Regions from separate parts of the Homo sapiens genome. Here regions 1, 3, 4, 5 and 6 are each linked to region 2. The links come from fine-mapping of genetic effects on gene expression. A gene starts in region 2. Each other region holds a variant in brackets. All regions are shown on one strand. Distances are from middle to middle.

Region 1 (4,090 bases), 140 kb after region 2:
TCCTGGTGATGGAGGAAGCAGAAGCAGTCTGTTGCCTGAGCTCTCTGTTATGTAACTTCAAGGATTCTCACACTCACTCGCACACCCCAGAGTCAGGAGGTGGGGCGTGGGAAAGTACATGGTAGAGGTCACCCCTCTGTAACTTGCAGCAGGGGCTGGGGACACAAAGGCCCTTGAGAAAGCAGCTGATTTCCTCCCCAGCACAGGCCGGTCACCACAGGGAAGATTCCAGAAGAGGAAATTTGCTCAGCTCATAACAAAGTTTATTAGCTTAGCAGATCTGTGTGTCAAACGAGAATCCGTTTCTAAAGACTCCATTCATCAAATTGGCTCAAGCTTAGTCATTTGTGAAAAAACTGCCAAAGACCCCACAAAGACAGCATACAGAAAAAACTTGCAGCCCAAGGTTTGGGAGGATTTGAAATATATAAACACAAGAATCAGAGATAAATACCAACTACCTAAGATTATGAGCTGATTTCCTCAAGGGTGGATAGTTAGATATAGAAGGAAACTGTAATTGCTCCATGGGTTTTTCCTGCCCACTGTCCAGACAAAACCAATTCATTGCAACCGTGACACTGCAATAAGGAAGTTTAATTGACACAAGACCAGCCATGCCATGTGGGAGATGAAGTTATTACCCAAATCAATCTCCCTGAGAATTCAGAGGCTAGGGTTTTTTAAGAATAGTTTGGTGGGCGGGGGGCTGAGGGAATGGGTACTGCTTGATTGGATGCAATCACAGCGGTGTGGAAAGTGGTCCTTGTACAGAGTCCCTTCTGGGTAGGAGCCACAGGAGCAGAGTCCTGGGTCCGGGTGGGCCATCTGGTAGTTAGAAATGCAAAAATCTGAAAGGACATCTCAAAAGGCCAATCTTGTTAGGTTCCACAATAGCGATGTTATCTACAGGAGTAATCGGAGAATTTGCAAATCTTGTGACCTCTGGAATAATGGCCGGTAATGGTTCATTACCTTGTTTATAGGTAATAGTTTATTCTGCCTACATCTTAGCAGAATTCAGCCTCCTCTCATCCTCCTAACCTGGTAGTCTTTCATTAGTTTTAGAAAGATGGTTTACTTTTGGGGAAGGGCTGTTATCATTTAAATGATAAACTAAATTTCTCCCAAAGTTAGCTAGACCCAAGCCTAGGAATGGCCAAGGACAGTCTGGAAGTTAAAGGCAAGATGGAGATTGGTTAGATCAGATCTCTTTTACTGTCATAATTTTCACATTTTTAAAATTTTTGCAAAAGTGGTTTCAAAACTGTCCCAAATCTTGTTAGGCATGAGGGACAGGAGGGAACAGGAACAACTGAGATACCTTCTAGGCAGTTAATGCCAGAAGATGTCTCAAGACTGGGTTGGGTCTAGGTCAATTATTTGCGAAAGTGTGGGTGCAAACCATGTTCTATCTAGGGACTGCCAAAACTCAAAACTGGGAAGATGAAATTCTGCTACAGAGAATTCAAATGTGAGGCTAGAAATAAGAGACAAAGTCAAGATGAGGAAAGACAGTACACCACAGCAGTGCCTGCACTTGGCTCAA[C/G]ACCAAGGGGCACAATTCACACTGCAGTCTGTACGAATGGTGCCCAGTAGAGCTGGGCTGTGTGTACCCTGCACCATTGCTTTGTAGCTGTGGATAGTGAGATAAATAAACCAAGAAATGAGAGAGCCCTTGAATCAAAATGATCCAAGATAATTGCTGAGGATAAGGCTTGAGCTTCCTCGTTTTTATCAGCTCTCCATTTTCAAAGCACAAATGGCCTGAAATACAATGAAGATGCAGTAGAAAAAGCAACAGTCTAGAAATTAAGAGACGGGAGGTCAAATCACCCTCTGAGAAGTTGGTCATTTATTCAGTATTCTTGGCGTCTGGTTTATCTCTAAAGTGGAGACAATGAGAAGTGGTCTGCTTCTCTTCCTCTCGGGGTTGAACCAAGTTTGATCAAGGATATAAGCAAACACTGAAAATGAATGCTTTGCAAATGTCAGGGTTACACATGACGCAGTGGTCATGGTTTTAGCAGGGTGCTGAGACCTATCAATGGCCTACAAGACCCTGCAGTATCTGTCTCCTCTTGCTAGCCTCATCCACTCCACTCACACTGGCCCCTTTGCATTCCTCCAGTACCTGTCCCCAAGGGCCTTGTGAGTGGCTCTTCTCTCTGCTTGGCACACTGTCCTGCAGAACATCAGCTTGGCTTGCTACCTTCCCTCCTTTGGGTTTTATTCAAACATCAAGTTCTCAGTGAAGATTTCCCTGACAACACACTATTTAAAATGCTCACCTCCTAGCATTTTCTAAACCCTTCCCTATTTATTTTTTTTTTATCCCAAACACATCACTGTCTAATGCACAATTTAATTTACTTTTTCCTATGTTTATGTTTTGTCCTCCCCCATCAGAATGTAAGCTCCTGGAGGGCAGTGATTATAATGTTTTGGATCCTAAGCCAAAAATAAAGTCTAGAAAATTGGTAGGCACTCAAAAAAATATCAGATGTATGAAAGGGAAAAAGCTGTTCAAAGACACAAGCTCATCTCCTTACCAGGATGCCTTTTGCACTTCGGTTGAAATGGCTCCACCAAATAAAATGTCTGTTTCAGCACTTTGCTATCAATCTTGATTTTTGCTCCAATTCCTTTTGAGACTCCAGGACTGAAGTTTTAATTCCCCTTGCTTGTTGCCCAGCAAACAGCATTGAGAAATGAAAGGTCAATTTGGAGTTGACAATTTGCCAATTTGCCATATTTGCTGACCTACTAGTGAAATGAGCCATATTTCAGGGAAGGCTGTGGGTGAAGTGAGATGGGTTGTAAGAGCCCCACAGGGGAAAGAAAATGTGGAGAGCCCCATGCCAGACAACGGAATGTTTAACAGGCATTCAAAAAATACATGTAGCTTATTGCAAAAGAAAAAACAAGCTCTCTCTTGAGCTTTCTTTGTTGTTGTTTAAACAAAATATATCCTCTGAACTCAGTAACTTGGAGAAATCTGCTATTGCTGCAGAACTGGAAGCATATAGAGTTCTGCCAACAAGAAATCTATTCCCCTTTGGGGGTTATATTCTTATCTTGAGTTATTTTCTCTTGGCCTAGAATGTGCCACTGAATTATTCTCAAATGGCTTGCTTCTGGGTCAGTTCTTTATGCAAGGACACAGTTACCTCACTGTGATCTGGTCAAAGTCAGTCTCTGACCTGCTGGGAATAGAGAGGGAATGGAAAAGAGGCCACTTCTCTGCCATCTGAAAACAGGTGTTTGTAGATTATTTGCTCAAATTGGTTAATATAACGATGTTAGAACTTGAGTATATATATATATATATATATATATATATATATATATATATATTCCCAGGTTTAAGCGATTCTCCTGCCTCAGCCTCCCGAGTAGCTGGGATTACGGGCACGGCTAATTTTTGTATTTTTAGTAAAGATGGGGTTTCACCATGTTGGCTAGGCTGGTCTTGAACTGCTGACCTCAGGTGATCCGCCCACTTCGGCCTCCCAAATTGCTGGGATTATAGGTGTGAGCCACCGCACCCGGCCAGGACTTGAATATTTTCACCATATGAAATTATCTAGAGGATTCAGAATACACTCTGCAGAAGCAATACATCATCATACTAAAGACTAGGCTTTAGAATGAAATAGTCCTGCTTCAAATCTCATTCCTTCTACTAATGAGTTATATAATTTTGAGCAAATTACTTAAGCTGCCTGAGACTCAATATTTTCATCTCCAAAATGGGAATAATAATATATACATCAGTTTTTTCTGGGATGATAAAATGAGATAATGCATTTAAACAGCTCAACAAATTGTTCTTGTTTGTAATGATTATTCCAAAAACCCAGGAGCATAGTTTTGTTAACCAGGATGATTTACCCTTCATTGACAAGAGAACACAGAAGGCAGGTAGTGAAGACAACATAGTCCATCTGGTGAAACTTGGCCAAAGTGATCAGATGATGTTACTCTCCTGTCTAAATCATCCTGCAGCAAACCAACATGTCAGCATCAGAGCTGTTGGTCTGCAGATAGACGAGAGGCCAGTGGGAAGCTGGATCATACACCCTGGGAC
Region 2 (4,090 bases):
GTTCTGCACGTCTGTTTATATGCCATTCACACCATGAACACATCCAATGCAATTGTATTCATCTTCTGTCATTTTTTAAAATTAGAGTTTACTACATGATTTTTGGAGGACGGCCATATCATAGTTATTCATCCCTTGCATGGTCTGTTCTGCCACTTCTAAAGTTCTGCGAAGTTTAATTTTTGGCAGGTTTCAAGATTCTCTACATACTTTGTAGGTTAGAGTGAACGTGCACAGTATATTGTGTAATAATTGCAATACAAGACGGTGTGTTGTGTTGTGGCACGGAATGCATCAACTTAAAGATAGAATTGTTATGCAGAATAGAGACCTTTGAAATATTTGGGTATTATCAACTTTTATTTCATTTTTTGAGAAAAACTTAAAAAGTGAGCCCAGTTTTTTAAAAAGCATTTCATTGTTCTAACCTACAATTGTGCATTGTATGTTTGTGTGTGTGTGACGGAGGGTGGGATGAATAAAAGGGGACATTAAAAATATTCAGACCATAAATATAGTAGATTGGAGGTTCTGATTTGATGAGCCAGTTTCTCAGCCATAAACTGAGAGGGGGTTGGGGATACACTTCATTGTCCTTCCTGGCTAATGTAAATCCCTTATATTTAAAAAGATATTTAAAAGTATTCCAAGCATTTTGGCAGAAAAGCATAGTATCTAATGTTATTTTTTTCTTATTTTATGTGCATGCCTCTTATCCATTTAAAAATAGCTTTACTGACCTATAATTTACACACTATATAATTCTCCCATTGAAAGTGCATAATTCTGTTGCTTTTAGTATATTTACAGAGTTGTGCAGCATCAGCATAATGTAATCTAGAACATTGTCATCAACTACCCCCAAATCTCTATTCTTCCCTTCCCCTATTAATTACCCAGCCCCAGGCAAGCACTGATCTACTTTTGGTCTCTATGGATTTGTCTATTTGTGGACACTTTAAATGGAATCATACAATATGTGTCTTTTGCGACTATCTTCTTTCACTTATCATAACTCAATACGGCTTTAGATTATTTGACCTCGATGTTCTGCCTCTGAACATAAAATATTATCCTTGCATTCCTTGATGAGTTTGAGGATTGAGAATAATTTGCATGAGACAAAAATTAGAAACTAGTTAGAGCAAGTAGGCTTTTCTCCATCACATAAGCTGATCCATCTTGCCAATGTTAAAACACCAGATTGTACAAGCACAAGCTGGGACGCAATGTGTGTCCCTCTATCCCTACATTGACTTTGCGGGGGTGGGGATGGGGTGCGGGGTGAGTGAGGGAGGACTGCAAGTGACAAACAGGATTCGTCAAAAGAGAGGTGTATTAAAGTGCCGATCAAATGTAATTTAACAGCTAAACTTTCCCTCCTTGGAAAACAGGTGATTGTTGAGTATTTAACGTGAATCGATGTAAACCTGTGTTTGGTGCTTAGACAGGGGGCCCCCGGGTAGAGTGGAACCCCTTAAGCTAAGCGAACAGGAGCCTAACAAAGCAAATTTTTCCGTCTGCCCTTTCCCCCTCTTCTCGTTGGCAGGGTTGATCCTCATTACTGTTTGCTCAAACGTTTAGAAGTGAATTTAGGTCCCTCCCCCCAACTTATGATTTTATAGCCAATAGGTGATGAGGTTTATTTGCATATTTCCAGTCACATAAGCAGCCTTGGCGTGAAAACAGTGTCAGACTCGATTCCCCCTCTTCCTCCTCCTCAAGGGAAAGCTGCCCACTTCTAGCTGCCCTGCCATCCCCTTTAAAGGGCGACTTGCTCAGCGCCAAACCGCGGCTCCAGCCCTCTCCAGCCTCCGGCTCAGCCGGCTCATCAGTCGGTCCGCGCCTTGCAGCTCCTCCAGAGGGACGCGCCCCGAGATGGAGAGCAAAGCCCTGCTCGTGCTGACTCTGGCCGTGTGGCTCCAGAGTCTGACCGCCTCCCGCGGAGGGGTGGCCGCCGCCGACCGTAAGTTTTGCGCGCAAACTCCCCTCCACCTGCAGACCCGGCGGGTGGCCACTGCCACCCGAACTGAGGATGAGAAGAAGGAAGTTGGAAGGGGCGGTGGATGCGCCCAGGGACTCTCCCAGCCTGGGCTCTAGCCCCGAAACGGTCCCCGGAGTGGGATCCAGGAGGGGCCGGGAGGGAATCTCCTCCCGATCGTGAAGCGGCGGCGCCCAGTTCCCGCTTTTTCTCTCTGCCGGGTTCCCGCGCTATCCCTTCCACTCTGGCTGGGACCGCGTTCCCGGGCTCGCAGGCTCCGCCGGGGAGGTTCCGGGGTGTGGGGGCCGGGACGGCGGAGGCGGGGAGTAAGGGCCCGGCTGGCGGTGACCTGCAGTCACCTCTCTGCCGGAGGGGCCCTGGAATGAAAGGCGCGCGGGCCAAGGTGACCTCGCCTTGGTTGGCACTGCGGCTCAGCCCCCGCCCGGGGACTCGCGGGCCGACTGTGGCCCCTTCTGGGGAAGCCGGGGCGCGGGGAGGCGTTCCGGGCATCTCAGCCGCACGGGGTACGCTCGCCCTCGGCGGGGCCCCTCGCTCCGCTGTGGGAGTGGCAGTGGGTGTCGGGGTGGAGAAAGTACGCGTGGCGCGGAGTCCTGGGGACGCGGCGTCCCACCCGCTCTGGGGAGCCCCGGACTCTCTCCAGCTTCCAGGCTCGCATGCCCCTCTTTTCTTAGTGCCCTGAGAACCCAGCGAGGGGCTGACCCTCCCGAAACCGTGGCGCAGCCACCAGCAATCTGTGGTCGCCGACTCGGGGGGTTGCCAGGTCTGCGTTTGGCCACCCTTTCTGTCCTGGGGGCTGAGGTCAGCTCCGGGCGCCCGGCCCCGCCGCGCGGCTGCGAGCACGTGGGGTTGACGGGCGCCGCGTGGAGGCAGCGAGCACAACGGTGGTCACCGCCGCCAGGGAACCGCCCGCTCGCTGGGGTCCAGGCGTTCGGGGCCAAATGAGAATGTCTCAGACCTGTCCGCAATGGAGGCAGCCTGCTTAATTCGAACCTCGATTCAGTAAACATGCAACAGCAGCATAGAGAGCAGCTGAAGCCATTCATAACACGGGACAACATTTCCTTTTTTCTTCCATGCTGGAATTGCAATTAGGGCGGTGTCGCTTGGATGTGCTCTCAGGCGGCACGTCCCCAGCGGTTCAAGTTATAATAGAGTCTCTCCATAGCTTTGATGGCCGCTAAACGTTTGTTTTATTTTGGCATTAATTTGTGAAACATTTTTGTTAGGTTAAAAAACAAAAAGTTGGCAGGGAGCAGTGGCTCACCCATGTAGTCCCAGCACTTCGGGAGGCCGAGGCCGGAAGACAGCTTGAGCCCAGAAGTTCGAAATCAGCCTGGGCAACATAGGGAGACACCGTCTCTATAAAAAAAAAATACAAAAATTAGCCGGGCGTGGTGGCCTGTGCCTGTGGTCCCAGATAGTCAGCAGGCTGAGAGATCACTTGAGCCAGGGAGTTTCAGTAGACTGCAGTGAGCTGTGATTGCCCCACTGCACTTCATCCTGGGTGACAGTGAGACCCTGTCTCATAAAATTAAAACAAAACAAAACAAACACTAAGTATAGATTCCATCAAAGCAAAATTGGATAAGAAAAAAAGTATCTTTTCTATTGGATCAGTTTGAAAACACTGGAGAGTTGATGAGAAAGTCTTCAACATCTTAGGTGGGGTATGTTTCGTATGTTTCCCTTCGTACTGCTTAATGCTGACAAGAAGATGGTAGGAGCCAACTCCAAATTCTTATTTCAGAAAGCACACCATAGAATAACGTCATTTTCATTGCAAAACAAGCACCGAAATATGTCATCACATTCAAGTTTTTCCTAGGCTCCCTTACAGGTTCAAGATCCTAAATTCTTGGGAGTCAGTGTCACCTCTCTGGGTTTAGGTTCCTCAACTCTGCAATGAGTTTGGATGAGGCCAATGTTCTCTGAGCCTGGTGTAACTCTTGCCTCTTTAAGTGGACACTTATGTGATTAATTAGTTTAATTGAGTTGTAGCCAACACATGCTTTTCCTAGCTGTAAATATATTAAGGAAGGATTATTTCCAAGTAGACTGGAAACGATGCCCTCCCATCCCCTCCACTTT
Region 3 (4,090 bases), 36 kb after region 2:
TTTTGCTCAAATGTCCCTCTCTGCCTATAATGACCACCCTATTTTCTAAGTACCTTTAATGACTACTTTCACTCTTCTGAGCTCCCTTCTGAAATCTTTTTTTCTTCCATTGCTATGTTACCACTACGATCTACCTGTCAGCACAAGTGTTGCATGTACTTGCTCCGATGTTGTGTTACTAAAAATAATTACTACCAGTTTTTCTGCATCAACTATGTGCCAGGCACTGTGTGAAGTGCTTGGTTAACATTTGTTTCATTCTCACAATAGCCTCCTGAAATAGGTATTTTTATCTTCTCTTTATTGATGAATATAACGAGATGCAGGGAAATGAATTAATTTAGAAATCAAAGCTAGTAAGTGGGTGAGTTGGCTTTTAAACCAATGTGTGACTTCAAAGTTGGAGTTGTTGATTTTTCCCCCCTTTGAGTTTTAAGCCTGTTTGAACATATCTGGGGCACTTGGAGATGGTGCACCAGAAATACATTGGCAGAAAAAATTTTTCCCAAGAGAAAAGAGAAGCAAAACACATAAAAGTGACTCAAGGATGGAGGCCCAAGACAGAGAGGAGAGGCAACTTTGACTTCCACCATGTGTCTGTTTCTATTGTCTGGCAGCCCAGCCTATGGGAGTTGCCTGAGGTTTAGGGAGAAGCAACTATGATAATCTGTGAATTGCTAGATTTGGCATCCATGGTGTGGGGCATGGTGGTCCAACATTTTCCCAGCAAGCTTCTAATGTGCTGGGGTCTATGGTGGCTTTTGTGAGCTGCACTGACTTCAGTGCGGACTCCACAGGTCAGGGAACCTTGACACCCCCTGTGCTTCGGCAACTCGTTTGTGGTGGGTTGTGACAAGTGATATTAGTAACAGCCGGATGGAAAAAGGAAGGAAAATGTAAGGTCAATGCAAATTTTTATCAAGTACCTACGATGTGCGGGCAATTTTGCAAGGTGCTAGTGTCATGCAGCCTGTGGCATATTTGAGCAGACTTATGGGAGTATATAGAAAAGCTAGGAGTGGGCCGGGCGCGGTGGCTCACGCCTGTAATCCCAGCACTTTGGGAGGCCGAGACGGGCGGATCACGAGGTCAGGAGATCGAGACCATCCTGGCTAACACGGTGAAACCCCGTCTCTACTAAAAATACAAAAATTAGCCGGGCATGGTGGCGCGCGCCTGTAGTCCCAGCTACACGGGAGGCTGAGGCAGGAGAATGGCGTGAACCCGGGAGGCGGAGCTTGCAGTGAGTCGAGATCGCGCCACTGCACTCCAGCCTGGGCGACAGAGCGAAACTCCGTCTCAAAAAAAAAAAAAAAAAAAAAAAAAAAAAAAAGCTAGGAGTGACAAAGGTCTTCATACACTTGTCTTTTTGTAATTCATCTGCCCAGAGTGGGCAAATTTTGGTAATTCATGCACAGGCACTATACTGTACATGCTAACCCTGACTTTACTCACTGCTCTGTTTCTCACCCAAGTTTGTTATGAATGATTTAAAGATGCTGAAGATACCTGGATATAAAGAAGGGGGACGAAGAAGCTAGAAAAATGCTGTTGCAATATTATTTTGGCCCTACATTTCCCCCAGCATTCTGTTGCCCAGAAATTGATTTGCATCACTGTTTGTCTTGCCTTCTCAGTTCCTTTGGCAATAACGATTATATTATCCATCTACTTTTCTTTTAAAAATTCAAAGTATAAAAATAAGTGTATTTAATAATTTGTTGAACAAATGCATACATAAATGAATAAAGACTGTCATGAATAAGTACTTTTAAACTCCAACAAGCAGCATAAATGAATGAAACTTCTCATTTTTCTCTCCATGTCTCCACTTCTGTAGGTTTCTACAAGCAGAGGGTGTAATCAAAATTGACCAGTACACTCATTCTTCCTGGGAACAGAACATGTAGGATGCTCTAAAAATACCTTCTTTGATTCATTAAACTGAGTTTCTCAAGGATGTAACGAAAAGGAACACAATTTGTTCTAGAAAGAGATTTTCCTATATGTCCTAAGAAGGAGAAAACAACCAGGAGACAAAAAGGAACTGAGATATTGACCAAAATAGATCATTAGGAAAGAGCGGGTGATTTTGAGTCAGGTTTTTTTAAAAAAAGCAACAGAAAACAGAAGTTAGAAAGAAGG[T/A]AGGAAGATACTCATGTCTTGATATGCTATCATTTTAATAACTTAATATTGATTTTAAAGTAAAAACCAACCTTATTTTTCCATTGTATGGGCCAAAATCATGTGAGTTTGTGTCACACATTGAGGGCAATGACAGTGCTAGTTAAATAAAGAGCTCGTTGATGTGCCTGAGTAACACTGTGAACTCAGCATTTTGATAACGATGTAAGGGCTAGAAAATTAGGCTTTTAGATGTCCCCAGGTCAGAGGTGAGCCTGGGTTGTTAAATGAGGCCGTAAGATTCCTCTGCCGCCACATGTGATTTGACTAAGATGACAATGATAAGTGTCCCTTCAGAGGTATGGAGCCTTCTGAGACCAGGTCACTCATTATTTCAAGGTGACCTCAAGTCCAAGGGCACATTTTAACTTCATGTACAACAAACAGCATCACGCTGCTCCTTGATGTTTACTGGTTCATTAAAGGGTAGGATGTAGGGTGTGAGGAAGTGAGGGTGGTACATTTTATTCACACCAGTAAAAGAAGAAATGCTCAAGTTATATTGTATAATTTCTATGAAAAAAAGTAACAGAAATCAGCACACCATTTTTAGAAGGCTCACCACGTGTGAATATCTTTCCAAAAAGTGATTTGTCAAAATAATTGACGTAACTATAGTGTTTCTCACATTTTCTCCTAAGTCACATGCCTAAAAGCTCAGCAGAAAAATTAATGGAAGAAAATGTAACCCATTTAAGATAAGCTGAAATATAAGCAAAGTCAAAAGATAACAAATTGATCCCCCCAAAATTGATATATAAAAAGTAAAAAGTAAGTTTTGGCTGAACGCGGTAGCTCACGCCTGTAATCCCAGCACTTTGGGAGGCCGAGGCGGGCAGATCACCTGAAGTCGAGAGTTCGAGACCAGCCTGACCAATGTGAAGAAACCCCATCTCTACTAAAAATACAAAATTAGCTGGGCGTGGTGGTGAATGCCTGTAATCCTAGCTACTCGGGAGGCTGAGGGAAGAGAATCCCTTGAACCCAGGAGGCGGAGGTTGTGGTGAGTCAAGATCACGCCATTGCACTCCAGCCTACGCAACAGGAGCAAAAACTCTGTCTCAAAAAATAGTAATTGTGAGTTTCTAAAAATCAATAAAATCACACACACACACACACACACACACACAAAGGAAAAAAGAGCAAAAGATGGAACACAAATCTAAACATAAAGTGGTCCTTAAACATATGAAAGGTAGTCATTGTCATGCATAATAAGAGATAGAATTTAATAATACATGAAAATGCCACTTTTTACCAATTTAGATTCAGAAAATCTCAAAGTTTAAAAATACACCTTGTTTGCAACTCTAAAGGAAAATAAGTCTTACATTGCAGATAGTAATGTATATTGGTGCAATCCTTGTAGAAGACAATTGGTAATACCTTTCAAAATTATAAATACATATCCTTTTCTAATGGTTCTGCTCTTGGGAATTTACCTTGAAGATACACATCTGCAAAAGGATATTACCATAGTCTCAGTCATTACAATTTTGCTTGTAATAGCAAATTAGTGAACAACACATATATGTCAGTTATGATTATTTTGCAACCATAAAAAATGAAGATAAAGATGGATTTGTCAAAATTTGATATTTATTCATGATAAAAAAAACTCTCAGAAAATTAGGAATAGAAGGATATGTCCTCAACCTGATGAAGGCCATCCACAAAAAACCTACATATAAAACTATATTTAATGGTAAAAGATTAAATTATTTTCCTAAGATCAGGAAAAAAGCTAAGATAGTTGCCTTACCAGACCTATTCAATACTATACTGGAGGTTCCATTCGGTGCAACAAGACAAGATAAAAAAATAAAAGGCATCCATATTGGAAAGGAAGAGGTATAACTGTCTTTGTTTCCATACATGATCATCTATGTAAACAATCTGATGAAAT
Region 4 (4,090 bases), 110 kb after region 2:
TTTTATTAAAAAGTATCAAAAATTGAAACTATATGTCCATCAAGTGAGGAATATATACATAAACTGTGGCACAGACAATAGAATACAAGTCAACAATCAAAAGGGACAAAGTATGGTACATGCAGCAACATGGATGATTCTCACCAGCATTACGATAAGTGAAAGAAGCCAGACACAGCAGGTATATAGTGTATGGTTTCACTTATATGACATCTGAGAAAAGAAAAATCATTGAGGACAGAGATACTATCCTTGATTATGAAGGGCTGGAGTTTGGGGGAAGGGTATTAGCTACAAAATGGCAAGAGGGAATTTTTTCAGATGACGGAAATGTTCCATATCTCACCACTATTCATCTCCAGAACTCCTTTCATCTTGTAAAACTGAAAATCTATACACATTAAACAATAACTCCTGATTCTCCCCCTCCCACCAGCTCCTGGCAACCACCATTCTATTTTCTATCTCCATGATTTTGACCACTCTAAGTATTTCATACAGTATTTGTCTCTGTGACTGTCTTGTTTCACTCAGCATAATGTTCTCAAGATTCATCCATGTTTTATCATATGTGTGAATGTCCTTCCTTTTAAAGACTGAACAATATTCCACTGTATGCACATCCCACTCTCTGCCCATCCATTCATGGACACCTGGGTTGCTTCCATGTTTTAGCTCTTGTGAACAATGCTGCCACAAAAATGGGTGTACAAATGTCTCTTCACATTCCTGCTTTTACTTGTTTGGGGTACAGACACAGAAGTAGAATTGCTGGATACTTTGATAATTTTGTTTTTAATATTTTTATTAAGTACTGTGAATAACAAATTACTCCAAGATGTTGTGGCTTAAAACAACAACAATCACTTATTTTAATGATTTCTTTGCAAAAGGAATTCAGATGGGGTAGAGAAATGACAGCTTATCTCAGTTCATCTGTGCCTTAGCTGAAATATTTGAAGATTGGGAGCTGAAATCATCTGAATACTTCTGCTCTTTCATTTGGGCCTACCTGGGGCTGCCGGCTGGACACCCACACATGACTTCTGCATGTGGCCTGGATTTGCTCACAATGTGATAGCTGGATCCCATAGGCAAGTGTTCTTAAGGAAAGAGAGCCAGGATAAAGCTGTACTTTTTATCATCTATTCTCAGGAGTCATACAGTGTCAATGCTCTGTATTTTACCGATTGAGACAGTGACAGTTTTGCCCATGTTCAAGAGGACGTAACATAGACTTCCTGATGGAGAAATTCCACTGTCACGTTATAAGAAGAGCATATTGGATGGGATAAACATTGGCACATTCAGTCTGTCACCATGATCATATGGCATATGTCTAATTGTGTTAAATTTAAAAAAAATTATTTGAATTTCACTATATATGTGAAATATACTAATTGTGATTTAATTGAAAATTACTGAAAACATAAAGATTTTTTAAAATTCTCCCACAATTGTCTGAGCAAGACATAACCGCTTTGAACATTTTTGAGTGTTCCTTGTGATATTTTTTTAAAAACACACAGTTGGAGTCTAAAATGCAACATTTTGATGAGACCAAGTTGATATCTCTACTTTGGCCACTTGGGCTATTTTGACTACAATTGCATACACTATATAAAATGGCCTCATTGACATATAAAAGCACAATTTAAACAACTAGTGAGTAATCTATGCAATAACCCTCTATTCTGTGTCTGACAACCACCCACTCCTCCTCCTACACTTCAGCCTCAGCCTAACCCAAAGTGAAGGGGTAGAATAAGGCTTCAGGGATGAGGCAAGAAAGTTTGCTTTCCATTTTACCTAATGTATTTTTGTTTTCTTTTAATTTTTTGTTTTAAATAATTTTAAATTTACAGAAAATTTGCAAAAATAGTACAGAAAGTTTCCAATTACCCTTCACATAGTTTTCCCTAATGTTAACATCATCTATAACCACAGTACCATTATCAAAACCAGGAAATTAACACTAATACAATACTATTAACTAACCTACAGACATTGAGTTTCACTAGTTTCCCCACCAATGTGCTTTTTCTGGTTTATGATCCAATCCAAGATTTCACATCCTATCTAGTTGCCGTGTCTCTTTCATCTCCTCTATGACAATTCTTAGTCTTTCCTTTTCTTTAATGACTTTGACACTTGAGGAGTCCTGGCCAGTTATTTTGTAAAACATTCCTTCAATTTGGATTATCTGATGTGTTTCAATTTGGATTATCATAGTGTTTCCCTGCTATGACTGACTGTATGCATATTTAGTTTATCCTTATTTCACAAAAGGAGTCGAAAATGGAAAAAAAAAAAAAGCCTTCATCCTAGTAACAAGAACTTATAAACTCAGAATGGAAATAGAAATGTCAAAATTTATTATTTCAGCCTCAATGAGACGTTCATTGGGTTCAAACCAGATTACTACAGGTTCACTTGTAAAAGAGCTTTGCAAAGCACCTTCTACCTTTAGTTTCTTCATTTACTAAACAGAGATAACATTTACCTTACCTCAAGAATGTTGCAAATTT[C/G]CCAGGGTGCATCAGATATGAACATTTTTTTATATTGTATTTTAAATTTTGGAGACGGGGGCTTGCTCTGTCACCCAGACTGGAGTGCAGTAGCACAATCCTAGCATACTGCAAACTTAAGTCCGTGGGCTCAAGTGATCCTCCTTCCTCAGCTTCCTGAGTAGCTGTGACTACAGGAGCACACCACCACACCAGCCTCCGGCTAATGTTTTGTTTTGTTTTGTTTTGTTTTGTTTTGTTTTGTTTTAAAGATATGGGGTTTCACTGTGTTGCCCAAGCTGGTCTCGAACTCTTAGCCTCAAGCAATCACTGCCTTGAGCCCAGGAGGCTGAGGCTACAGTGAGCTGTTACTGTGAGATGTTCACACATACATGCATACACACACGTTAATGTGGAAAGGAAACCACTTCAATTATCCCATAGAACTGATGCTTATGGTTTCTTTTGAATAAACATAGAAATTGACCCTCCCAGTCTTAAAACTTGAGAAAGTTACACTTATCTGAGTTCCTTTCTCAGGAAACTAACCATCAGGACTCCCAGATAGTATCAGGGAACTGAAACTTACCAGATTATCACATCTGGACAATGAGAAGCCAGACCCTTCACCCACCACGACTGCCTGACCACCTGCTTCCTATTGACCAATTCCTCTTCCTTACCACCCGCCCCACCCCCATTCCTGTTTTCCTGCATATCATTACATTCCTTCCCTGCTATATAAAACATTGATTTTAGTGGGTCCGAGAGAAGAATTTGAGACTGATCTCCCATCTCCTTGACCGCAGCATATTAAAGCCTCCTTCCCTGGCAATACTCATTGCCACAGTGATTGGCTTTCTGTGCAGCAAGTAACAGAACCTAGACTGAAACCCTGGCATTTCAGTAACAGAACGAGTGCATGATGTATGTGTAGGTATGGCTACATAGTTTATTTGTATATTTATTCATTTCATTCACACTTCGATTGTATGTGGCTATTAAGTTTCACCAGTGCTTCTTAACTTGCCTTAGGTGATTGCTGGTGGAATGATAGCGTAACATTTACTCAGAATTTAAAATAGAATTTACTCCCAACAATACCCCAGAAATTTATCCTTAAAAACTCTGTTCTTCGAATGTGTGGGGAGACTGATATGAGTAATAATAAAACTCCAGTCTCCCACACAGCCGGCTCTGTGTGAATTACTCTTTCTCTATTGCAATTCCCCTGTCTTGATAAATCAGCTCTGTCTAGCCAGTGGGCAAGGTGAACCCATTGGGTGGTTACAGGATTTGTTCTGTGACACTCTCTTTGGTACCCCCAGTATTAGTCTAGGGTAAGAATGAACTTCAAACTACAATTTAGACTCTGCTTCTTAGTTGGAAGTCTGCAGGGCCAGATGGAGACCACCATACAATTGGTCAGAAAAAGATAAGCCAAGGGTGCATGTGAAGCAAGAGAGAGATTTAAAAAAAAATCCCCCTTCAAAATGAGCCTGTTATGCAACAAAACCAAAGACATTTAATAAAATAGCCAACAGACCCAAAAACTCAGAATAGGAATTTGCTCTAGATGAAAT
Region 5 (4,090 bases), 180 kb after region 2:
ACTCAGGTGTTATTTACTGTAAAGCAGGACTTAATATAAGTTATTCTATTGCAACTGTGGGGAGTTTCACTCCTGAAGCTCTAAGGATACTGGTTTCATTATACAGAGGCCAAGGCGTAGTCCACTGAAACCCCTCCTGATGACTTCCTAATCTTCTCCTTTAGTGTCTCTTACAAATGGGCCTCCTCCCATTTTCCCTGATTAGATCAATGAGGGCTTCTCCCACAGTGAGGGCTGACTAAATTCTTTACTCTCCCTGCTGTAGAACTAGAACTAGACATTGGGTCAAATGCTCTAAATGTGTTTCATATTTATGTGTATACTTGACTGTTTTCCATCAATCTACCTCTCTCCAGGAAATGCCTCTTGAATGGGAGAAGCTGCTGCTCCCCCAAATTGCTGGGGAAGAAAGGGAGTTCCTGATCTTTCTTATTGAGGCTCATGGAGCTTCTGTCCTGGAGATTCAGTATACTTCAGTAATGGCTCTGGAGAAGAGAACTCAGGATCCTCAAGACCCAATGGCTCGTGATGATAAAAGCCTTTGGGTCTACCGACATTTTCCCTACGTGCTCAGACATGTCTGCATGCATTTATTGGCATATTTTTCCATACTCAAAGCAAGTTGCTATGTGTTAGTACTAAAGCAACCCATAATAGTAAAAACGAATTTCTGCACCAAGAGAATGAATCGGCAGCTGAGAAAGTCAGAGTGAAGAGGCCCCAGTAATATCTCTACCTACTTGAAGGTTAAATATTCCTAAGACTCTAGGAGGAAAGAGGAGAGAAAGTGGGCCCTGTTCTTTCCTCCAGGATGTAAGGTTTTTCCAGGCTGCTTTGAAAAGTCTCAATTACTCCAGGCTATAGAAGAATACAATCAGAGGTGAGTTCCCTGAAATCAAGGACACTGCCTTATCTAATGGTGCTGGGAGTGCAGCGAACTTGCTGGGGACAGTTTGAAGGATCATCTTAAGCTCTGAAACCAGGTTGCTGCCACCTGCTACAGATCACCCACAGCCAATGTCCTTGGCTGAGTGACACAGCTTCCCCGTGACCGCCACTGATCCAGCCACCAAGTATGCAGCCCAACCTATGAAGCTGAGCCCAGAAGTGGCTCAAAAAAACAAGCCACAACCCAGAACTGAATCACAACAGCCTTTTCCTTTAACACTATACTTGCTCTATTTAACCTCCGCCATGGCCAATTCAATAGATTCACAGAAAATATCAGCAGGACGCCTTGGTTCTCAACACCAAGTCTGGAAAGCTGGGTTTACACGCCCCACCTGAGCAAGCCTGATCGGTGATTGTGTTGGGCTCATTCCTCACTTGGCCCCTTCAAGCAGAGATAGGCCCTGCAAGAACTCTCTCTAGGAATTGTTTTCTCAATATTTTAAAATCCACTTTTCCTATATCCTATCAATGGGCACGGAGTGAGAGTGATACAGGCATGTGGAATTTCACAAGGCTAGATGTGCCAGCTTCAAGACTACTGAGCTTTAGGTATACACTTGTTATGGTTTGGATTTGTGTCCCCACCTAAATCTCATGTCGAATCGTAATCTCCAAAGTTGGAGAAGGGCCCTGGTGGGAGATGATTGGATCAGGGGGGCAGATTTCCCCTTTCCTGTTCTCATGATAGTGAGTGAGTTCTCATGAGATCCGGTTGTTTAAAAGGGTGTAGCACCTCCCCCTTCTCTCTCTTCCCCCTGCTCTGGCCATGTAAGACGTGCCTGCTTCCCCTTCACCTTCCACCATGATTGTAAGTTTCCTGAGGCCTCCCCAGCCATGCTTCCTGTATAGCCTACAATAGAGTAAGCCAATTCAACCTCTTTTATTTATAAATTACCCAGTCTCAGGTATTTCTTTATAACAGTGCAAGAATGGACTAATACAACAACACCGAAACACACATGCCAGCCAGTATTCACCCTGTCCTGTCCTCAACATGGTGACCTACCAGTATCACTCCTTCCAAGCCCATTTCCATTGCTCCTTCATGTTCTTCTTTGCCTCTTGAGTAAACAAGTCAAATCTATCCATTCATATCCCCACGTATTCACTTGCTTATCCAACATTTTCTGAGCACCTTCTCTGTCCAAGCCACTGGCCAGGTGCTATGGGGGTTGGGGGGCTCAGAGATGACTCTCAGAGCAGGAGAGAGCCCTGCTAACTCATCTCCCTCCCCATCTGCTCCCTGCATAACCAGCATTTTGGAAGCTCAGACCTCGCTACACCCTTAGCCCTAGCCACAATGACCTGGATGAACCAAAATCAAATTCTTCAATAGGGAAAGATTTAGAGACCTTGTCCTCTTAGAGAAGGTAAAAGCAATGTTCCTAAAATCAACAGTATGGTGTTTCAGTTAGAAAAATAAAAGTTCAGGTTAGCCAAATATTGCTGGGTACCAGGAAATCTGTGCAGGCAGAGAAATTGTCTGCCGTGCCTGTGCCAAGATAATCTTCTGTCCAATCTTCTGGGAGGTCAGGGCGGGCCAATGCACTGACTCACCAGGGAGGGCTTT[C/G]TAAGAAAGAAGGCTGGCCAGGAATCTTCTAGGGGGAAATATGCTGTTTTTATTGTGTCTGGTCTCCCCAGCTCCCTCCTAAATCTGTTGAATGAGGGAGTTCATCTGCTGGGTGTTTGAGAGCTCAAACTGTCCAACATTGTAGTAAACATCAGGCAAAGGGCAGTAAACAGAGGCTCCCTGTCCCAGCTGGGAGGAGCCCAGATATTGATGAGCACAGCGGACAGCCACAGACACACAGAAACACAAAAACAAGTGCCAGGAGCAGTGGCTCACGCCTGTAATCCCAGCACTTTGGGAGGCCAAGGCGGGCAGATCACCTGAGGTCAGGAGTTCGAAACCAGCCTGACCCACATGGTGAAACCCCGTCTTTACTAAAACTACAAAAAATAGCCGGGCGTGGTAGCTGGTGCCTGTAATCCCAGCTACTCGAGAGGCTGAGGCAAGAGAATCACTTGAACCTGGGAGGCAGAGGTTGCAGTAAGCTGAGATCACACCACTGCACTCCAGCCTGGGCGACAACAGCAAAACTCTGTCTCAAACAAACAAACAACAGCAACAACAACAACAACAACAAAAAACCAAGCAAACACATGCAGGGCTGCCCATAACCTCTGGAAAGAAAGAACTCTCCTGGTCAGGAATCTCCTCTTGGGCATGAGTGTGAAAATAAGGACTCTTGAATTTGCTTGCCACATCAGAGGCAGCATTGCAGGGAGGCCTTTACTTCAGAGGCAGCATTGCAGGGAGGCCTTTACATACGTATGTCATCCAGCCTCATGGCAAAATAGATAATAGATTGTATTACCCTCATTTTCTCCAGGGGAAACCTGAGGCTCAGAGGTCATCTTGCCTACAGTGACTATTTGCAGGACTGAGGTTGGTATACAGGTCTGTCTGACTTCTCCTTGTAGGCTTTCCCAGAAATCAAAGCCTCACACGACCCCCTCCTCTAAGGCATGACAGAACCCAGTTGTCTGTTCAGGCAGGGGGAAGGAGGGGGTGGCCCACCTGGGGGATTTCAGGGGTGCTGCCACCTGGAAAGTAACCCTCAGGAGCTCACCAGCAGTGCCTGGAACTCAGACCAAAATCACTCTCTTGGGTGTTTAAATTGTAAATATGTTTACCTGTATTCAATCTCACCCTGTTTATTGTTTGCTTCTCCTCAGTCCACAAAGCATTCAACACTCACCATTCTAAAAATAATAAAACTGGGCTGGGTGCAGTGGCTCATGCCTGTAATCCCAGCACTTTGGGAGGCTGAGGCAGGTGGATCTCCTAAGGTCAGGCGTTCGAGACCAGCCTGTCCAACATAAAGAAACCCTATCTCTACTGAAAATACAAAATTAGCCGGGCGTGGTGACACATGCCTGTAATCCCACCTACTGGGGAGGCTGAGGCAAGAGAATTGCTTGAACCCAGGAGGCAGAGGTTGCAGTGAGTCGAGATCCCGCCATTGCATTCCAGGCTAGGCAACAAGAGTGAAACTCTGTCTCAAAAAACATAAATAAATAATAAATAATAATAATAAAACTGGCTAGGCATGATGGCTTATGCCTGTAATCTCAG
Region 6 (4,090 bases), 61 kb before region 2:
CACTCTCCACTCCCTTACTCCTGCTTCCTGAGATCACCTCCAGTATCAGAGTTTTATTGCTGCATTACAGATTACCACCTATTTATTACCTGTATCAGATGCATTACCTGTTCTGTAGGTCAGAGGTCTGACTGGGATTGACTGGGTTCTCAGGTTAGAATAGTGCAAGGCTGAGATCAAGTCTCCACCAGGCTGGGCACTTCTCTGGAGGCTTTGGGGAAGAATCTGCGTCCAAGATTGTTCAGTTTGTTAGCAGAATCCAGTTTCTTGCAGTGGTGGGACTGAGGTGCCTGCTTCCTGACTGTCAGCCAGGGGGTCATTCTCAGCTCCTTTCTGCCTGTCTCCCTCCATTTCCAAAGCCTGTCATGGCATGTCAGTTCCTTCCTGGGTTTTGAATCTGTCTTCCCCTTTTGCAATCAACTGGAGAAAACTTTCTGCTGTTAAAGGGCTCATTTCTTAGATTAGGCCTACCTAGACAATCTCCTTTTTGATTAACTCAAAGACAGCTGATTAGCAACTCAATCACATCTGCAAAGTCCCTTTGGCAATATAATGTTAACATAATCCCCATCATGCTATCTCAACCATATTCACTGTTCCAGAAATTAGAATGGGAAATTTTGAAGGATAATCTTTAGAATTCTGCCACCGCACCTCCAAACTAACATACTTGTACTCAAACCCTTGCCTCAAGCTCTGCATTCAGGGGAACCCAAAATAAGATATTCCATAAATAACAAATGACTACTCTTTAAAATTCTGGTTGAAGCTTTTGACTATTCCAACATAATTCAAGATTTTAGAGATGTTTTCTAATTTTGTTGTCATTTTCATTTCTGAAAACTTGTAAGAGAAATAAGCATAATAATTAAACAATTTCTCAAGCTTCCTTAAGAACATCTGAGCTATTTGAATCTAAGAATGTTAGTTCCTTCTCTTTTGGTCTTCTAATTTTATAGTACGTCTCACTTCATATTTTATATTCTTCCTTTTTTCAATATTGACTGCATTTATCTCACTTACTCTTCCCAAGAAGCCTGAGGGATTTTATTACCCTGATTTTATAGACAGAAACTGGGTCTCAGCCAGTTTCAAAATATTTCTCAAGGTCACATAGCCAGTCATGGCAGACACTGGATGACAATCCAGTTCTGTCTGATGCCAGATGCCTATTCCTTCCACTTTGCTGGCTTCTAAAATTGAGAAAATTAAGTACGTAACCTGAGAAGAGGCAGGTTTGCATGGCCCTACATAGAAATACACATTAAGTGGTTCAGTTAGAGAAAATAATGGCATGCAATGCACACTGGCTTTATAGGAAATATAGGGCATAGCACTGATCACATACCATAATCCTGATTTTTCTCTAAGACCTCCTTCTTCTAGAAAATTCAACGAATCTCAGAGAACATAAACACAGCCCTGTAAGAGTTTCTATGGTTCCACTTAAGCAAAACTGTTCATTAAACATCAAGCTCTTGTTTTTAGAATAAAAATACTCAAGAGTAAATATTTCCCCAAAGGGATCACTTTCTAGACAATTTTACAGGCTATTCTTTGTGAAGGAAATTTAGAAAGCATAAACCACACAAAAGCCAAAGTAAAATCTTTGGAATTTCATTCACTTCAACTAATAGCCTGAGAGCTTAGTTAGCAGGACACTTAATTTTGAAAAAGAACTTCTCTAAAACAGAAAGTAGATTGCATTGAAAAA[T/C]GGGTAGTTGCTTTCAAAGTTGTTTCTGCTTAGTAAACTTTTATTTTCTAGAGGAGACTTATTATCCTATCAAGAATCAAAGTTAATTTTGACAAGACTAGGATTTTCTCTGAACTCCAACTAAATCAAAGGAAGAAAGAATGAAAGGAAGGGAGGGGAGAAGGAGGGATGAAACAAAGAAAGGAAGGTAGGCTGGGCGCTGTGGCTTATGCCTGTAATCCCAGCACTCTGGGAGGCCCAGGCGGGTGGATCACGAGGTCAGGAGATCGAGACCATCCTGGCTAACACAGTGAAACCCCATCTCTACTAAAAATACAAAAAATTAGCCAGGTGTGGTGGCTGGCTCCTGTAGTCCAAGCTACTTGGGAGGCTGAGGCAGGAGAATGGCGTGAACCTGGGTGGTGGAGCTTACAGTGAGCCAAGATCGGGCCACCGCACTCCAGCCCGGGTGACAGAGTGAGACTCCATCTCAAAAAAAAAGGAAGAAAGAAAGGTAGGAAGAAGAAAAGAAGGAAAGAAGAAAGAAAAAGAGGTAAAGAGAGATGGAAGGAGGGAAGGACAATTGAAGAGGAGATTCTTGTTTATTAATAAAGCACAATAACGGATGACTTACTTTAAAATTTGTGATGGCTTTAATATGTCATCATTACAGTTAACCCTAGAGCCACACTGGTTTGAACCATGTGGTTCCACCTATAGGTGAATTTTCTTCCACTTTTGCCACACCTGAGACAGCAAGATCAACCCCTCCTCTTCCTCCTCCTCCTCAGCCTACTCCAGTGATGGTGAAGGCCTTTATGATGATCCACTTTCACTTAACAAATAGTGAATACTTTTTCTCTTCCTTAAGATTTTCTTAATAACGTTTTCTTTTCTCTAGCTCACTTACTGGAAGAATACAGTATATAATACGTGTAACATACAGAACATGTTATTGGTAAGGCTTCTGGTCAACAGTAGGCTGTTAGTATTTAAGTTTTGGGGGAGTCAAAAGTTATACATGGATTTTTGACTAGGTGGGGGATTGGTACCCCTAACCTGCATGTTGTTCAAGGGCCAACTGTGTTTTTGTTTTGGAAGTAGGTGTCTACACACACAAGTAAATGATAGAAATGTGAAGTGCTTTCAAATGCCAAATATTCTGAGAGAAGAGAACGCCTAGATTCATTACCCTCATTTGTCTTCACAGTGAAGGAGAATGTGAACGCTATATTTACAGTGTTGGCACCATTTGAGCTTCGACTGTAAGTTTCGTGGTGAATATTCTAGGGCCTCAAGGCTCAGGATCTGGAATGCTCACATGAAGAGCAGAGCAGGAACCAACACAGGGAGCACACGGCTTTGCCTCTAATTCTTCTGCTAAGCAGACACTTCTTGAGTATCATCTTTTCTTCTCTGGGGTTCCTGGCACTGAGGCAAATGCATTGCAGTTCGCTCTTTAGTGAAAATGTCCTGCTGCCTTCAAGGTTCTTCCCTGTTTCTCATCTCAGCTCTGCAGCTTCTCTCCTCCACCCCTACCCTTGCCAACATGCCAAAGATGCTTCTGTCTTTCCCAAATAAGCATCTTTTACATGTATTTGCCAAGAGGATAAAGACAGGTATTAAATTTCTCAGTAGTTGCGATGACCTGAATGTTTGTGTCCCCATAGAATTTAAATGCTGAAATGCTAACCCCCTCAAGGTATGATATTAGGAGGTGGGGCCTTTGAAAGGTGCTTAGGTCATGAGGGTGTAGCCCTCATGAATGGGATCAGCACCGTTATAAAAGGAACCCCCAGAGAGCTCACTCATCCTCTTTCTGCCACATGAGAATACAGAGAGAAGCTGGTCACCTACAAGCCATGAAGCGGACCCTCATCAGACACCGAATCTGCTGGCATCTTGATCTTGATCTTAGACTCCAGAACTGTGATAAATAGATGCTTGTTGTGTAAGCCATCAAGTTATGCTATTGGGTTACAGCAGCCAATACTAAGACAGGAATGTTCAGTTGAAAAGAACCTCACCATAAGAGAGCCATTCATAACGAGGAAGAGACATTGCCAATGGGAAGTTAGGAGTAAATGGAGGCTGTGGGAAGGTGTCAGGAGATTCAACAGAGTCCATTTTTTAATGGTTCCAGACTTGTAATATCAACTGGAAGAAAGTTTGGGGTCAGGATCTTTCAATATCCTTGATTCCAATCATTAGAGGACTTCCTACTGACCCCACCCATGCAGCCAGACTTTTTTACTCCTGCCACTTGTCACTTTTTCTCTCAGTTGCTTTTCTCCTCTTTTGAGGCTCTTCATATTTTTATTCCACCTCTCTCTTCAGTTCTAGGGTCCTCTCTCTTTCAGTATTTTCCAGACCCGTCTATCACAAGGAACAACACAG

The links.
Region 1: its variant is fine-mapped to the expression of LPL in whole blood (INTERVAL, PIP above 0.99).
Region 3: its variant is fine-mapped to the expression of LPL in whole blood (TOPMed, PIP above 0.99). The same link has a PIP of 0.9 or more in blood mononuclear cells, macrophages, monocytes and monocytes after LPS.
Region 4: its variant is fine-mapped to the expression of LPL in blood mononuclear cells (TOPMed, PIP above 0.99). The same link has a PIP of 0.9 or more in T cells and whole blood.
Region 5: its variant is fine-mapped to the expression of LPL in lung (TOPMed, PIP above 0.99). The same link has a PIP of 0.9 or more in fibroblasts.
Region 6: its variant is fine-mapped to the expression of LPL in whole blood (INTERVAL, PIP above 0.99). The same link has a PIP of 0.9 or more in blood mononuclear cells and monocytes.

What each region holds. Positions count from the first base shown.
Region 1 is chr8:20,074,029-20,078,118 of GRCh38, forward strand. No RefSeq gene overlaps it. Among named protein-coding and RNA genes, the nearest start is that of SLC18A1, 110 kb to the right of the region's middle. The variant C/G (reference allele first, on the strand shown) is at 1,550.
Region 2 is chr8:19,937,563-19,941,652 of GRCh38, forward strand. It overlaps LPL (lipoprotein lipase), which reads left to right and starts at 1,691. Exons shown (of 10, transcript NM_000237.3): 1 at 1,691-1,966. The coding sequence starts at 1,879.
Region 3 is chr8:19,973,536-19,977,625 of GRCh38, forward strand. No RefSeq gene overlaps it. Among named protein-coding and RNA genes, the nearest start is that of LPL, 36 kb to the left of the region's middle. RefSeq lists a silencer at 2,310-2,510. The variant T/A (reference allele first, on the strand shown) is at 2,146.
Region 4 is chr8:20,045,865-20,049,954 of GRCh38, forward strand. No RefSeq gene overlaps it. Among named protein-coding and RNA genes, the nearest start is that of LPL, 110 kb to the left of the region's middle. The variant C/G (reference allele first, on the strand shown) is at 2,529.
Region 5 is chr8:20,117,279-20,121,368 of GRCh38, forward strand. LOC105379311 (a long non-coding RNA gene) reads left to right here. Exons shown (of 4, transcript NR_188140.1): 2 at 357-1,500; 3 at 3,345-3,400. Among named protein-coding and RNA genes, the nearest start is that of SLC18A1, 64 kb to the right of the region's middle. The variant C/G (reference allele first, on the strand shown) is at 2,522.
Region 6 is chr8:19,876,399-19,880,488 of GRCh38, forward strand. No RefSeq gene overlaps it. Among named protein-coding and RNA genes, the nearest start is that of LPL, 61 kb to the right of the region's middle. The variant T/C (reference allele first, on the strand shown) is at 1,715.